Regions from separate parts of the Homo sapiens genome. Here region 1 is linked to region 2. The links come from fine-mapping of genetic effects on gene expression. Tissue or cell type: whole blood. Region 2 holds a variant in brackets; the other region holds the start of a gene. All regions are shown on one strand. Distances are from middle to middle.

Region 1 (8,109 bases), 220 kb after region 2:
ATCAACCATTAATCTACTTTCTATCTCTATGGATTTGCCTATTTTGGAAATTTTTTATAAATAAAATCATACAATATATGACCTTTTGTGACTGGCTTCTTTCACTTAACATGTTTCCAAGGTTCAGCCATGTTGTAGATGTACATTAATTTGATTGTGGTGATGGTTTCATGGGTACATGTCAAAACTTATCAAAGTATACACTTTAAAAATATGAAATTTGTTGTACGTAAATTGTACCTCAATAAAACTACCAAATAAAATAGGCAAAACAGGTCAGGCATGGTAACTCAAACGCCTGTAATCCCAGCACTTTGAGAGGCCAAAGCAGGTGGATCCCCAAGGTCAGGAGTTCGAGACCAGCCTGGCCAATGTGGTGAAACCATGTCTCTACTAAAAATACAAAAATTAGCTGGGCATGGTGGCGTGCGCCTGTAATCCTAGCTACTCGTGAGACTTAGGTGGGAGAACTGCTTGAACCCAGGAGGAGGAGGCTGCAGTGAGCTGAGATCGCACCACTGCACTCCAGCCTGGGCAACAGAGTGAGACTGCATCTCAAAAAAAAAAAAAAAAAAAAAAGGGCAAAACATTTTTATAGATGCTTCACAAAAGACGTTCAGATAACAAGTGGATGAATGACTGACTACTCTATTTCATTAAGCATCAGAGAAATATAACTTAAAATTACAATGAGACATCAGTACAGACCCAGAGCAATAGTTTAAAAAATTTAAACTACTAACTACTATAAACCCCAAGGGCTGATATGACTGTTGAATAACTGGAACTGCCATATGCAGCTGATGGGAATGCAAAATGGGACAGCCACTTTTGAAAAAGGTTTTAAAGTATTTTATGAAATTAAGGCTGAGCATGGTGCCTCACACCTATAATCCCAACATTTTGGGAGGCTGAGGTGGAAGGATTGCTTGAGGCAGGAGGTTAAGACCAGGAGGTTAAGTCCAGCCTGGACAACATAGCAAGACCTTTTTTCTACCAAACATTACAAATTAGCTAGGCCTGGTGACATGCTCCTGTAGTCCCAGCTACTTGAAAAGGCTGAGGCCCAGGAATTCGAGGTTATGGTGAGCCATATCCTACCTCAAAAACAAAACAAAACAAAACAAAACAAAAATAGAGAGGAAAAAAAAAAGCAAAGAGCAAGCAAGCAAGCAAGAAATTAAAATCTTTGGCCACACAAACACCTGTAGCCAAATGTTTATAGCAGCTTTATTACTAACAGCCAAAACCTGGAAACAACTCAAAGCCCATTAACTGCTGAATGGATAAACAAACTGGTAATACATATAATGGAATACTACTCACACATTAAAAGAAAAAATTAGTGATACATGCAAGAACATAGATGAATCTTGAAAGTATTATATCAAGTGAAAGAAGCCAGACACTACCAGCTCATACTATGTGATTCCACTAACATGATGCCTCCAAACACAAACCTATAGCAGTAGATATCAGATCAAGGGTTGCTAGGGACCAATGGTGAGGATAGAAAATCGATAATAAGTGCATGAGACTTTACAGACTTACAGATATACTAAAAATGATTGTGATAGTTCACAACTCTTCACATTTGTCCAAACTCATAGAACAGTATTCCTTAAAAGAGTCAACTTTACCATATGCAAATTATGACTAAATATGCCCGACTTTGTTTTTTCAAAAGTGAGGGTGAGGTGGGATGGGGTTGGGGGAGACATTATATACAGGAGAACAAAGATAAGAATGACACCAAATATCTAAAAACAACAGCCAGAGGACAATAGAATATTAAAGTGCTAAAAAAAGTCAACCTACAATTATATATCCAGTTTAAAAATAAATCTTTCAAAAATGAAAGTTAAATAAAAACATTTTCTAAGAAACAAACACTGACAGAATCCTTCACCTACATGCAGTATTAAATAAATGAAGTTATTCAAACTGAAGGAAAATTATGAAAATATGGATCTACATAGATGGATGTATTCTATCAAACACTTAACAATGCAATGCCAATCTTATACAAACTTTTTCAAGAAGTAAAGAATACAACACATCCCAGATCACTTAAAGATGTCAGACACCATTACCCTAATTCTAAAACCAGACAATCAAAATAAAGCAAAACTGAAGACCAATCTCCCCAAAATGGCAACCGAACAGTGAAAAAAAATTTAGTTAAAGCCATTCCTCACATCATATATAAAAGCAAATTTCAGGTAAGCTAATGTTCTCATGTGAAAGATAATGCCTGAGATGGTTAGGAAGAAGATTATGAGATTATATTCAGGTATATGCTGGTAGAATTCACCATAAAATTATTTTAATATAAAACATCCAAAAAATTAAGGCACACAAACTATTTTCACTCTTCATGTTGATCAAGAATTTTCCTATTTCTTGTTAATTCAAAAAGACTCTGGATGCAATACCTTGTGAACTTATTTTTTGGTATGCCCCTGTGCTCATATACTACCTTACTACCTTTATCTCTCTGTTTTTTGTTTGTTTGTTTTGGAGATAGGCACGATCATTGGCCACTGCAGCCTGGAATTCCCCGGCCCAAGTGATCCTCCCACCTCAGCCTCCTGAGTAGCTGGGAGCAAGGCGAACACCACCACGGCTGGCTAATTTTAAAATTTTTTTGTAGAGATGGGGTCCGACTATCGTCTTGAACTCCTGGGTTGGTCTCGAACTCCTGGGCTGAAGCAGTCTTTCCACCTCAGCCTCCCAAAGTGTTGGTTGGGATTACAGGCGTGGACCGCCACACTTAGAAATGACTTTTCTAATATCCTTAAATCAGAGCTCATGTAAAATTTTCAGCCTTCTCATTCCACCTCCCTCCGAACTACAAGTCTTAAAACTAAGAAATGACAGCCATTCGGTAGAAGTTAAAACACTGTTTCGCTGCTTATTTCTACTTAAAAAAATTATATACATAGATATATATTATGTAAATATATATAATTATATATATAGACATACGTGTGTGTATATATATAAATAAACGTGTAGAATTGGACTGGGGTCCCACTAATATCCACATTTCAAAACAGAATCTAAAACTCCCTAAAACAGGGTTGGGCTCGGCGGCTCACGCTTGTAATCCCAACCCTTTGGGAGGCTGACACTGGAGATCAGTCTGAGCAACAAAGTCAGATCTCTTTTCTACTAAAACAAAATACAACTCTCTAAAACTAATACAAAATTTTGTGTGTATGTGTCATATTCTGGAGAAAAGCTCCAAGGTTTTCCTCTGGGTCTTAAACAGGACTAAGACCCCCCACCCCCAAAAGAATCTCTGTTCTAGAGGCTAAGCATATAGAAGCTCATACTGCATTATCAAACTGGAAAGTTAATAGAGGATTTTCATGGTCATATACAGGAGAGGTGGGGAAAGCTGTCTATTTAGACTGTAAACTCCTAAAATGTTCATAAATCTCAATGGAAATTAAATCCACCGGGGTGGGAGAAGTATCACAATAGACAAAGAAGCTAAAGGTTAATGAAGAGAAGGTTTTAATCAGTGGTTACTTTTGTGCTTGGGATCAATCCTCAGTTTGTCCTCCAACGTAACTTTTGGCATTATTCATTTCAAAGTCTGAACAGTATCCATAAACCCAATACGAAACCTATGGATCCAGAGGGTCCGACCGAAAACAAAACAATTATGTTTCCGATGTGAACGCATCAATAGCTTACTTTTGTAGCGCTTTATAAAACGCTGTCACTTGCTGCTTTCCACGTCATGATATTCCCGGTCGGGAAGAGTAGGACAGCAGCATCTTTTATGAATAAGGAATTTTTTGGATTCAATTTGTGAGGTGTGGGACGCTCACCAGGTTGCGCGAAAACCATTTTTCTACATCGTCAAGTGCACGCACCCCGTGTCTCATAGTATTAGTGATGAAGACGAGGATGAAACTACCAAAGACATCAGTGGGGAGTGAATTATACTTGGGGGAGGTGTAAGCACGTCGAAATAAGGAAGCTGAGAGACATTTTGTGAAAGAGGGAAGGTAGCGTTAAGAGGAGCCTTCCATCAGGGGCAACAGAACGGGGGCAGGCGTGGCGTCTCTGGGACTGCCGGAAAACGACGTGAGGGAAAAACTCAGAGGCTACGAAAAGGCGAACAGACGGAGGGCCTGCCTCAGGGGAGCTAAGCAGCTCGCCTGAAGCCCCCCATCTGGAAATGACGTGTTTAACTCGGCGCCCCTGCAGCTCCGGCCGCCCTTTTTTGTTTAACTCCGCGCCCCTCCAGCTCCGGCCGCCCTTTTCGTCGCTCTCCCCTCGCGGTCGCTCACCCCTGAGATCCCTGGTTCCACTGAGACGCTCAGCTTCATTCGGCAACTCGCGGACACCAAGCGCCACAAATTCAAATACGAGATCTAGAGACGCTGGGTCTCAAACGTCTCCCAGAGTGAAAGACAGAGGAACCAATCGAGGCTCGGCTGACCTCAGACGTCTAAGGCGATAGGCGTTGCTAAGAAAAGGGGGTGGGACGATACCCAGTTGCCAAGACGACGGCTTCCGGGTGGGCGGCTTGAGGTGGCTTCCGGCCGCCAGGCGAGACTCCGCGGGAAAACTCCCTGCTAGAGAGACTAGGAGATTTGGGGCTGCGGCCGTTTCCTCCGGAGCACCCACGGGACTGTGTGCTGGGGTCCCTCCACCGGCTGTGTCCTTTATTCTTCTTTCTCACCCAACGATTTACCTGAACGGTTATAAAGTGCACGTTATTTCCCTAAGGTAAGCGTGTGGTAGCGCCTCCTCCTCCTCCAACAGGGGGGTAACAGAAACCTGCTGTCAACTTTGTTACCCAACATAACTGTACTTAACCACAAAAAGTTGAAATTTTGGATCTTTAAACATTCAATAACCTCTTGCTGTGTGAGGTTTTTTAACTGCACTACATACATTTTGTAGTCTTTAACCATTGAATGCGATTTAAGTTTACAATGAAATTTAACGTTCTGGTTGTTTCTGACCCCAAATTTCATCTGAACCAGTTAATGGACGAAGAACTGAAATTTTATTTTCTGTGACAGTCTCATAGGTTCTCAGACTTAAGTTCTTAATCGCCCATAAATCTGAAGGCAGGTGTTAAAGATGAGCAGGTGATTTGAGCCCAGTCCATGCCAACACTCAAACTAATTCAGCTGAGACTCCTTTCGTTAGGAGCATTATTTTAATTTTAAAAATTTTAAACCGAATGGTAAGCATGGCTGCTTTAGTTTCAGTTGTGTCTCATTTGATGATGATAGTCCCACACAAGACGATCTCATTTGTCAATGAAAGTAAACATTAGTGACCACACAGCTTTCTGCAGATAACTCTTTAAACGAACATCTTTTATCAGACCACAGAAATCATTGTTATTGTCACTAAAATGTAAAAACTAAAGCAAAACTTATCTGCTTATCAACAATTTCTTCCTCCATAGCTAAGGTAGGGAAGCATTTATGAAAGCTTAGATCTATATGTGTTTGGGATCCTGCCAACCCCTTTCTTAAAATTCCATCTTCAAAACTCCCTGCTAATGAGCACTTTTCCAACAGCTTGGATGAAACATTCTGAATAATTCGTCAGCCTGAAGGTTAGAAATTTCATTAAATAAAAAATTAAATACACAGAATACTTAAGTATGAAACATTAATGAACTGAGTAATACATTCTTAAGAAGAGGAGGCACTTAGGAAAACACAGGCCACCTGCATTGTGGAGCCATTTAATGTGATGAGATTTGATAAATGGGTAAGAGATCAAAAAATGCCCAGGGTTTCAAAAGAGAATGTTCCATGAGCAGCTTACTGCCTACATAGACCATTTGAAAATCAAACCAACTCAGCAGAAGCCCAAGAGGCCTTCAGATGAACCCGAGTATCCTTTGGATGTCAGTGTTGTACTGAACAAAGTCAGTTGAACTGTTATTTATCTGACAAGAAAAAAAAATGCCTAAATTTTGTAAGGACTTACACCATTCATTTAAAAATATATAGTGATCTTAGAGGTTAGAAAGCACAGAAAAGAAACTTGAACATAGAGGTACTTAAAAGGAGAAAAATAAATTTCCTCCGGTAGTAGACATGTATTTGGCATTGTTCACTGTTATCTCCTTGATGTCCTCTCTCCTCAGCTTGGCTGAATCCTACTTACGCTTTTAAGACCCAGGTCAAATTGTGAATCTTTTGTGACCTAGTCCATAGTCACCTCTCTCCCTCCTGAATGCCTATAATAGTCTTTATTTGGCATTTTTTTGTATTCTTTATAATGTTTCTTATTTATGTTTATGAATATATCTTACATATAACTTGCATCATCTAAACCCTAAACTACTCAGAATTGTGTTCACCATGTACCTGGCAGACAGACTTGAACAAATAAGTTTTGATGTAAAACTGCCAAGATTAATACTAAATATAGTTGAGATCCATATTAGTTTGCTAGAGCAAACATAACAAAATGCCACAGACTAGGTGGCTTAAACAACAGAAAGTTATTTTCTCACAATTCTGGAGGCTAGAAGTTCAAGATCAAGGTATCAGCAGGGTTGGTTTCTTTCTGAGGTCTCTGTCCTTGACTCAGATCACTGTCTCATCTCTTTGTCTTCATGTGCTGTTTTCTCCATGTGTGTGCACACCTGTGTCCAAATTTTCTTTCCTTGTAAGCACACCAACCCTACTGGATTTAGGCCCGTGTTAAAGACCTCATTTTAGCTTAATTACCTCTTCAAACACCTTATCTCCAAATAGGGTTACTTTCTGAAGTACTAGGGGTTACACCTTTAACATATAACTTTTGGGGAGACTCAAGGCCATAACAGTAGCCAAGACTCAAAAAGCAGAAATGATTGGGAGCAATTATCTGTCACCTTTCAGAACTCCCATTTTTAGACCTATAGATAGCATAAATGTGTAAGTCAGATTAGTGTAAGATAATAGGAAGTGGTAGGGCCTGTGGCAATTCAAAGTATATTTGCCCAGACAGAAGACATTCAAATTAAAATTGTAAACAACCCTCCATCCCCACCCGAGCCATCCAAACAAAACAGTTTGGCTGGTTTTGACTTACAGGTTATCAGTTTGCAAAAACCACCACCATGTTACTTCGTTTGGAATCATAACCTGATGGTGGATATTGGACATATTAAGTATTTTTATTGCATATCCAAATACATTTTTCCCAGACCCCATTGGTTTATGCACAGCTTTTTTTATTGAGTACTTGTTGTGTTAAAGGAACTGTACTAAGTGCCATGCAGGGATTAAGATCCATACGTTTGGCTACATATATCCTAGAGTTACAAGGACCTATTTTTGAGATCATTTATTAAATACCTAACTTTACAAAATTTAATTTTTTGTGTAACTTTATCGTGTAAATAAATTTGAACTCCAAAAAAAATTTCTTGTCAGACTACATGCACCACAAAGACCAAGACTGTGGCCTCAAGTACAAGGGTAGAGGAAATGAGACAAATAAAAAAATAATTATTGAGCAAGATGAAAGAAGACCATAAGAGGATTATAGATAAAGTGCTATGGAAGATTACAGGACAAACAGATTTCATCCAGCTGGGTGTGGTGCTGAAGGTATTTAATGCAGTTCGAATTAATCTTTTCATGGCACTTGGTACCTCTAATATATCATTAATCGGCATATTATATGGTAGCTATTTGCTTATGTTCATATCCCTCCCAGTACGTTCTGAAATACACAAGAATGTCATAATCTTTATTTGTTCCAGTCTAATGTTATTCAAAAGCATCTAGTGTTACCCAAAGGAGTCAATTGGGGAACTTTTTAAAAAGAAACTTGTCTTAATTCTAGCTCTGAAGATTGTAATTAAGTAGGCCTGGAGAGGTGGTGGAGGATCTCTATTTTGAAAAGTTTTCCCTCACTTAATAAATCTGGTGATCACACCATTTAGAATCTACTGCCCTAGAGCACCTAGTATATAGTATGCTCTCAGTAAATTGTTGTCACATTAAATGAGCAGAGCTGCAATTTAGTAAGATTAATAAGACTCCAGTGTGTAGGATGAATTAAAGTGGGAAATATCCTAAAGGCAGGAAAATCCTATTACAGATGTCCAGCTAAGAGATGAAG
Region 2 (8,109 bases):
ACTCTTTTTTTCACTTGAACACTTTTTAGAGGCTATTGTTGGGTTATAAATTGGTCTAACTTCGATATTGTTGTGTCTAACATCCATATGGTCTTAGGGAACAGGGAGGCCTGAAGAGAGCAACAGAGATGGGGGAATGCCCACTTGCTCAAGCAGTCAGAATACACACAACATTGATAATTTAAGTTAGCCATCTTATATGAGCATAGTTCATAGCATCCCAAAACAATTACAATAGTAACATCAAAGATCACTGACCACAGAACACCGTAATAGACTGAAAAGTTTAAAATATTGAGAGAATTAACAAAATGTGACACAAAGTGAGCACCACAGACTTGCTCACCCAGGGTTGCCACAAACCATCAATTTGTTAAAAAAAAAAAAAAACCAACACAATATCTGTGAAGTGCAGAGGAGGGTAATAAAACAAAGTAAACCTGTATATGTCAGGTGTTCATATAAACTGCATAATTTTTATGCCCATATTACAGGTAAAAAAGCGTAGGTGAAAAGCTTAAAGTAATAGCTAATACATCACGGAAGTAGCATATAAATCAAGATTTTCAAACTTGGAAACAAATGTTCTATCCCCACTCTCCCCACGAATTTTCCAAGATCAAATGTACCTGATTAATGGTAGCACTGAAGAAATGTTATTTGTTCTGGTTTCTCCAATTTTTCCTCCCTGCCTTAGCACAAGGGAGTTCACAATTTGTAGGGTTTTATAAATTATATTGAAATACCATAGACAAATAATAGTAGCTTGCTTGAAAACACACTAACAGCTGTGCAGGGCACACAACAAGCACTCAATAAGCATCTGACTTATCCAACTTAAAAAATGAGACATTAAATATTGAAAAATTATTTCATGGCACAGAAAGCACATCAGCCAACATTAAAAAATCAAGTACACAGTTATAAAGATGGGCACACTAAGGTGTTGGTATATTATCCCTGACTATTTTTTATGATTCCCCTAGACAAAGGATGTCGAGCAAAGAGGGAACCATATTTGTCCATTGTAAACATTTAGTCTAGAGATTTAAAGGCTGTTTTGCACACTGAGTCTATAGAGAGACAGGCGATTGCTCTCTGTCACAATTTCAAAGTCCATCTTCTTTACCTCATCAATTTGCAGCTTAGTAGGGGTGAGGATGAGGGAAGAGTTATATTGTACTCCCAGAAGTAAGGGGCTGTTTTCCTGCCTGTCATTCTACCAACCTCCCAGAATAAATTGCTACTTAGAAAAAGGGAAGTCAAACATTTGTGAAACATATTGCTATTTAGAAAAAAAGAGAATTGTTTTGCAAATAGTAGCACTATTAAAAGAGCAGAGAGAGAATAGCATCAGTCATTTTATATTACATATAAGCAGTTTATTAAAGAATTAAATATTTATAGACTATAAAGCAAGCAGGCGATGAGTCACAAACAGCTTGCTGAGAAGTACATTATAAAACAATGAGTCTGTCAGTGATTGATAAAGAACGGAGAACGCAAATGCTTTATAAATTCCCTAAGTTAGCTATGAATTTCCAGACCAGAAGAAAAGGACACAGTAGCCAGCAATGTCACACCAACTCTAGCTGATGTATATGCCAAAAGCTTTCAGTGAACAAAAAGTACACTTCTCTTTGATTCGTCCACCTCCATCTAATGTAGAGGAAAGAGCTGCAAAGCACAGAGAACTGCAAGGGCTTTATGGATGCTCACTTCCAAGTTAATAGATGTTAGATTTAGATATCCATATAACTCATTTTATTTTCTTCTGACTTTTTTCTTATTAGATAATAAAGTCCATATAATTTCAAAGAAAGATATCCCCCTTCTTTTCAGAATCATATGCATTAGAGACCAGATCGCCTAATCTAATTCTATCAAGTTAGAGTGAAAGCAACTAGGACTTAAAGGTGTAAAGTTACTGATCCAAGTTCACATAGCTGGTTAATACCAGAATTAGGTTTAAAACTTGGGTCTCCTATCTCCTTGATCAATATTCTTCCCATAGTATCACCTTCTTTCCCCCAATCCCTTTTTAAAATGAAAATTCTGAGCTTTTGCTATTCACAACCATTCATCGGTTAGAAATTGTGAATTCTTTCTCTCATAAAATTATATTTCAATTCAGTTTAGATGATGATTTTAGGAGAAAAAAAGCTTTAAGTGGATAAAACTTTATATCTTCTCTGAGAGAAACAAAATATAATCTGCCTCTCCATAGTCGTTCTAGAGTTTGAGATAATAGGATGCTATTAAGAAAATGTTGGCTCTTTCTTGAGGAAAGGCTTTCTTTTATGCATTAACTACTTGGGAGGATGAATTTTCATTCTTTATGAGAATGACTGGTCAAGACCTAAAGGTGTTGCTAATCTTAAATGCCAAAAGAAGTCATCTCTCCTTGACTTTGTGAGTCATAGCTTCTATGTGTTCTGGATACAGTACTTTGGAATTCCATCCTTTTCTATTCTCTGTCTTCAAATTTAAACAGTCATCTGGTTTCCATATAGTTGAGCTTGAAGTTCCACTTGCAAACTCGACAGAGACACATTGTGAGTCAAATAAAATTATGAATCAAATCCTTTGTACCTTGTACAGATGCTAAAGCACTGAGTAGTAGAAATCAAACCACTGATGCCCCTGCCCATAACCCTACCATTATTTTTTTGGTAATACTTGAATTTCTATGAAACTATATCCAACCAGAAAATCTATTTGATTACATTAGATGCTTCTTTTTAACTTTATTGAGGCATGGTTGGCATATAAAAAGCTGCACATATTTAATGTATATATCTCAATGAGTTTGAGGAGAAGTATACACCCAAGAAACCACTACCATTATCAAGGTCATAAGCATATCCATCACTTCCTCAAGTTTTCTCACGCCTGCTTTACCATTATTATTGTTATTGTTTTTGGTGTGTGTATGGTAAGAACACTTAACATAAGATCTACTCTCCTAGCAAATTTGCCTACGGGCATCATGTTATATGGTAGATCACCAGAACTTAACTTATTTTGTATAAGTGAAACTTTGTACCCATTAACCATAACCTCCCTCTTTTGCCCTCTCGACGGCCTGTGGCAACCACCATTCTACTCTCTGTTTCTGTAACTTCTACTTCTAAAGATTCTACATTTAAGTGAGATTACACAGTATTTGTCTTTCTGTGCCTGCATTACTTAGCATAATGCACTCCAGGTCAACCCATGTTGTTACTGACAGGATTTTCTTCTTCTTCTT[CT/C]TTTTTTTTTTTTTTTGTTAAGGCTGAAAAATACTACATTGTATTTATATGTCATAATTTATCTATGCATCTGTTGGACATTTAAATTGTTTCCACATCTTGACTATTGTGAATCATGCTGCAATGAAGACGGAAGTGCAAATATCTCTTGGACACTGGTTTCATTTCCTTTAGATATACTCAGAAGTGAGATGGCTGGGTCATATGGCAGTTCTATTTTTTAATTTTTTCAGAAAATTCCATATTTTCCATAATAGCTGTACCAATATACATTCTCACTAACAGTATACAAGGATTCCCTTTTCCCCATATCCTTGCCAATACTTGTCATCTGTTGTCTTTTTTGTAATAGCCATCTTTTTTTTAAAATTATACTTCAAGTTCTGGGATACATGTGCAGAATGTGCAGGTTTGTTACATAGGTATACACGTGCCATGGTGGTTTGCTGCACGCATCAACCCATCATCTACATTAGGTATTTCTCCTAATGCTATCCCTCCCCTAGCCCCCCAGCACCCAACAGGCCCCAGTGTATATCCCCTTCCCTGTGTCCATGTGTTCAACTCCAACTTACGAGTGAGAACCTGCAGTGTTTGGTTTTCTGTTCTTGTGTTAGTTTGCTGAGAATGATGGTTTCCAGCTTCATCCATGTCCCTGCAAAGGACATGAACTCATCCTTTTTTATGGCTGTACAGTATTCCATGGTATATATGTGCCACATTTTCTTTATCTATTATAATAGCCATCTTAACAGGTGTTAGGTGATAGCTCATTACAGTTTTGATTTGCATTTCCCTTATAATTAGTGGTGTTGAGCATTTTTTCATATACCTGAAAAGTTATTTGTATGTTATCTTTGGAGAAATGTTTATGCAGGTCCTTTGCCTATTTTAAAATCAGGCTATTTCATTTTTGCTATCAATTGTGTAATTTCCTTTTACATTTTAGATATTAGCCCCCCCTTTTTTGAGAAAGGGTTTCACTCTGTTGCCCAGGCTGGAGTGCAGTAGTGTGATCTTGCCTTACTGCAGCCTCTACCTTCCCAGGCTCAGGTGATCCTACCACAGCCTCCCGAGTAGCTGAGATTACAGGCATGCACCACCATGCCGGGATAATTTTTGTTTTTGTTATAGAGACAAGGTTTCACCACATTGCCCAGGCTGGTCTCAAACTCCTGGACTCAAGTGATCTGCTTGCCTTGGCCTCCAAAAGTGCTGGAATTACAGGTGAGCCACTGCACCCAGCTACCCTTTATCAGATACATGGTTTGCAAATCTTTTCTCCCAATCCGTAGGTGGCCTTTTCATTTTGTTGATTGTTTCTTTTGCTGTGCAGATGCTTTTTAGTTTGATGCAGTCCTACTTATTTTTGCTTTGTTGCCTGTGCTTTTGGTGTCATATTCAAAAGATAATTGCCAATACCAATGTCAAGGAGCTTTTGTCTTATGTTTTATTCTAGGAGTTTTATAATTTCAGGTCTTATGTTTATGTCTTAAATCCATTTTGAGTTGATTTTTGTGTATAGTGTAATATAAAGGTCTAATTTCATTCTTTTTCATGTGGATATCCCATTTTCCCAACACCATTTATTGAAGAGACTAATTTTTTTTCCTGTGGTGTATTCTCAGCACTCTTGTGAAAAGTTAGTTTACTGCATATATGTGGGTTTATTTTTGGGCTCTTGATTCTGTTCCTCTGGTCTATGGGTCTGTTTTTATGCCAGTACTAAATGCTGTTTTGATTACTATAGCTTTGTAACATAATTTGAAATTAGGAAGGGTGATATCTCCAGCTTTGTTCTTGCTCAAGATTGCTTTGACTATTTGGGGCCTTTTGTGCTTCCAAGTGAATTTTCAGATTGGGTTTTTATTTCTGTGAAAAATGTCATTGAAATTCTGATAGGGATCACACTGAATTTTACATTTTAACAACATAAATTCTTCCAATCCACAAACATGATATATCTTTCATTTTCTTTGAGATATCTTTTCATTTCTTTCATCTACCTCAATTTCTTTAATCAGTATTTTATTGTACTACATTGTACAATACAATGTAGTATAATAAATACAGGTGAACACATCTTTCACCTCCTTGGTTACATTTATACCTAAGTATTTTATTCTTTTTTGATGTTATTGTAAATGGAATTGTTTCCTTAATTTCTTTTCCAGAAAACTTGTTGTTAGTGATATAAATACAACTCTATTAATTCCAGCAACTTTATTACTTTTATTAGTTCTAACAACTCTTTGGTGGATTCTTTAGGGTTTTTTTTTTTTTTTTTTTTTTGAAATAAGGTAAAGTTATCTACACACAGAGACAATTTTGCTCTTCTCTTTCTGATTTGGATGGATTTTCCCCCCTAACTGCTTTAGCTAGGACCTCTAGGCACTGTGTTGAAAAAAGTGGCAAGAGTGGGCATCCTTGTCTTGTTCCTGATCTTGCAGGAAGCCTTTCAGTTTTTCATCACTGAGTAGGATGCTAGCTGGGGCTTGTCATACATGGCTTTTATTATGTTGTGGTACATTCATTCTATACGTAGTCTATTGAGAGGTGTTTTTTTTTTTTTAAATCAGGAAATCATGTTGAATGTTATCAAATGCTTTCTCTGCATCTATTGAGATGATCATATGATTTTTATATTTCATTCTGTTAATGTGGTATATTACTTTTACTGATTTGTGTAGGTTGAACCATGACTGGATCCCAAGGATGAATCCCACTTGACAATGGTATATAATCTTTTAAATGTGCTGTAAAATTTAGTTTACTAGTTTTGTTTTTAGTATTTTCACATCTATGTTCGTTACAAATATTGGCTAGTAATTTTCTTTTCTTGCAGTGTCCTTGTCTGGCTTTGGTATCAGGGTAATGCCGGCCTTGTAGCATGAGTTTGGAAGTGTTCCCTCCTTTTCACATTTTTGGAGGAGTTTGAGCAGGACTGGCGTTACTTCTTCTTTAAATACTTGGTAGAATTCACCAGTGAAACCATCTTGTCCCGAGATACTCTTTGTTGAAAGGTTTTGGATTCCTTAGTCAATCCCATTACTTGCTATTGGTCTATTCAAATTTCCTATTTTGTCAAAGCTCAGCCTTGTTAATTTGTATGCTTCTACAAATTTATCCATTTCTTCTAGGTTATCCAATTTGTTAGCATATACTTTTCACAGAAGATTCTTATGATCCTTCGTATTCCTGTGATATCACCTGTAATGTCTCTTCTCTCATTTATAATTTTATTCATTTGATTCTTTTCTCATTTTTCCTTAAAGATTTTCATTATCATTTTCATTATCTTTTCAAAAAACAACTCTTTGTTTTGTTGATTTTTTTCTATGGTTTTTCTAGCCTGTTTCATTTATTTCTTCTAGATGTTTATTCCTTTCTTCCTTCTGCTAACTTTGGGCTTATTTCGTTCTTCTTCTTCTAGTTCCTTGAGACATAAAGTTAGGCTGTTTATTTGTGATCTCTCTTTTTTTCTTAAAGTAGGCATTTACTGCTATAAACTTCTTTGTTAGAACTTCTGTGGCTGCATTGCATAAGTTTTGGTATGTTGATTTTCCATTTTTGTTTCTCTCAAGATACTTTTTGATTTCCCTTTTGATTTCTTCTTTGTGACTCTTAGTTGTGAATATTTACTTTTTTGATTTTTGATTTTAATTTTTGTGCATACATAGTCGCATATGTATTTACAGGGTACATGAGATGTTTTGACACAGGCATGCAATGTGTAATAATCATATCATGTAAAATTGGATATCCCCTCAAACATTTACATTTGTGTTACAAACAATCCAATTATCTTTTAGTTATGTTAAAATGTACAATAACATTATTTTTGACTATAGACACCCTATTGTGCTGTCAAATACTAGGTCTTGTTCACATTCTTTCCTTTTTTTCTTTTGACCCATTAACCATCCTCACCTTCCACTTATACTCCAACTACCCTTCCCAGCCTCTAGTAACCATCCTTTTACTCTCTATCTCCATTAGTTCTATTGTTTTGACTTTCAGATCCCACAAATAAGTAAGAACATGTGATATTTGTCTTTCTATGCCTGGCTTATTGCACTTAGCATGATGACCTCCAGTTCCATCCACGTTGTTGAAAATGACAGGATCTCATTCCTTTTATGGCTGAATAGTACTCCATTGTGTATATGTACCACATTTTTTTATCCATTCATCCGTTGATGGACACTTAACTTGCTTCCAAATTTTAGCTATTGTGAACAATGCAGTAACAAACATAGGAGTGCAGATATCTCTCTGATATACTGATTTCCTTTCTTTTGTGTATATACCTAGGAGCAGGATTGCTGGATCATATGGTAGCTCTATTTTTAGTTTTTTCAGGAACCTCCAAATTATTCTCCCTACTGGTTGCACTAACTTACAGTTTCATCAACATGTATGAGGGTACTCTTTTCTCCACAACCTTGCCGGCATTTGTTATTGCCTGTCTTTTGGATATTAGCCATTTTAACAGAGGTGAGATGAAATCTCTTTGCAGTTGTGATTTGTATTTCTCTGATGATCAATGATGCTGAGCACCTTCGTATGTCTTCTTCTGACCATTTAAAAACTGGATTATTAGATATTTTTCTTATAGAGTTGTTTGAGCTCCTTACATACTCTGGCTATTAATTCCTTGTCAGGTGGGTAGTTTGCAAATATTTTCTCCCAGTCTGTGGGTTTTTCTACACTTTGTTGACTATATCCATTGCTGTATAGAAGCTTTTTAACTTGATATGATTCCATTCGTCAATTTTTGCTTTGGTTGTCTGTGCTTGTGGGCTATTACTCAAGAAAGGAATTTTTGCCCAGACTAATGTCCTGGAGATTTTCCCCA

What was found. PIP is the estimated chance that this variant, and not a neighbour inherited with it, causes the effect.
Region 1: it holds the start of ZFHX3-AS1, and the variant in region 2 is fine-mapped to the expression of ZFHX3-AS1 in whole blood (INTERVAL, PIP 0.95).

What each region holds. Positions count from the first base shown.
Region 1 is chr16:72,660,585-72,668,693 of GRCh38, forward strand. ZFHX3-AS1 (ZFHX3 antisense RNA 1) reads left to right here and starts at 4,549. Exons shown (of 4, transcript NR_171704.1): 1 at 4,549-4,749. It overlaps LINC01572 (long intergenic non-protein coding RNA 1572), which reads right to left and starts at 4,386. Exons shown (of 14, transcript NR_126330.2): 1 at 4,308-4,386. RefSeq lists enhancers at 4,128-4,247, 4,288-4,347.
Region 2 is chr16:72,441,536-72,449,644 of GRCh38, forward strand. The region is part of intron 6 of LINC01572 (long intergenic non-protein coding RNA 1572); the gene reads right to left. All of the region lies in intron 1 of LOC124903718 (a long non-coding RNA gene), which reads left to right. Among named protein-coding and RNA genes, the nearest start is that of LINC01572, 220 kb to the right of the region's middle. The variant CT/C (reference allele first, on the strand shown) is at 3,251.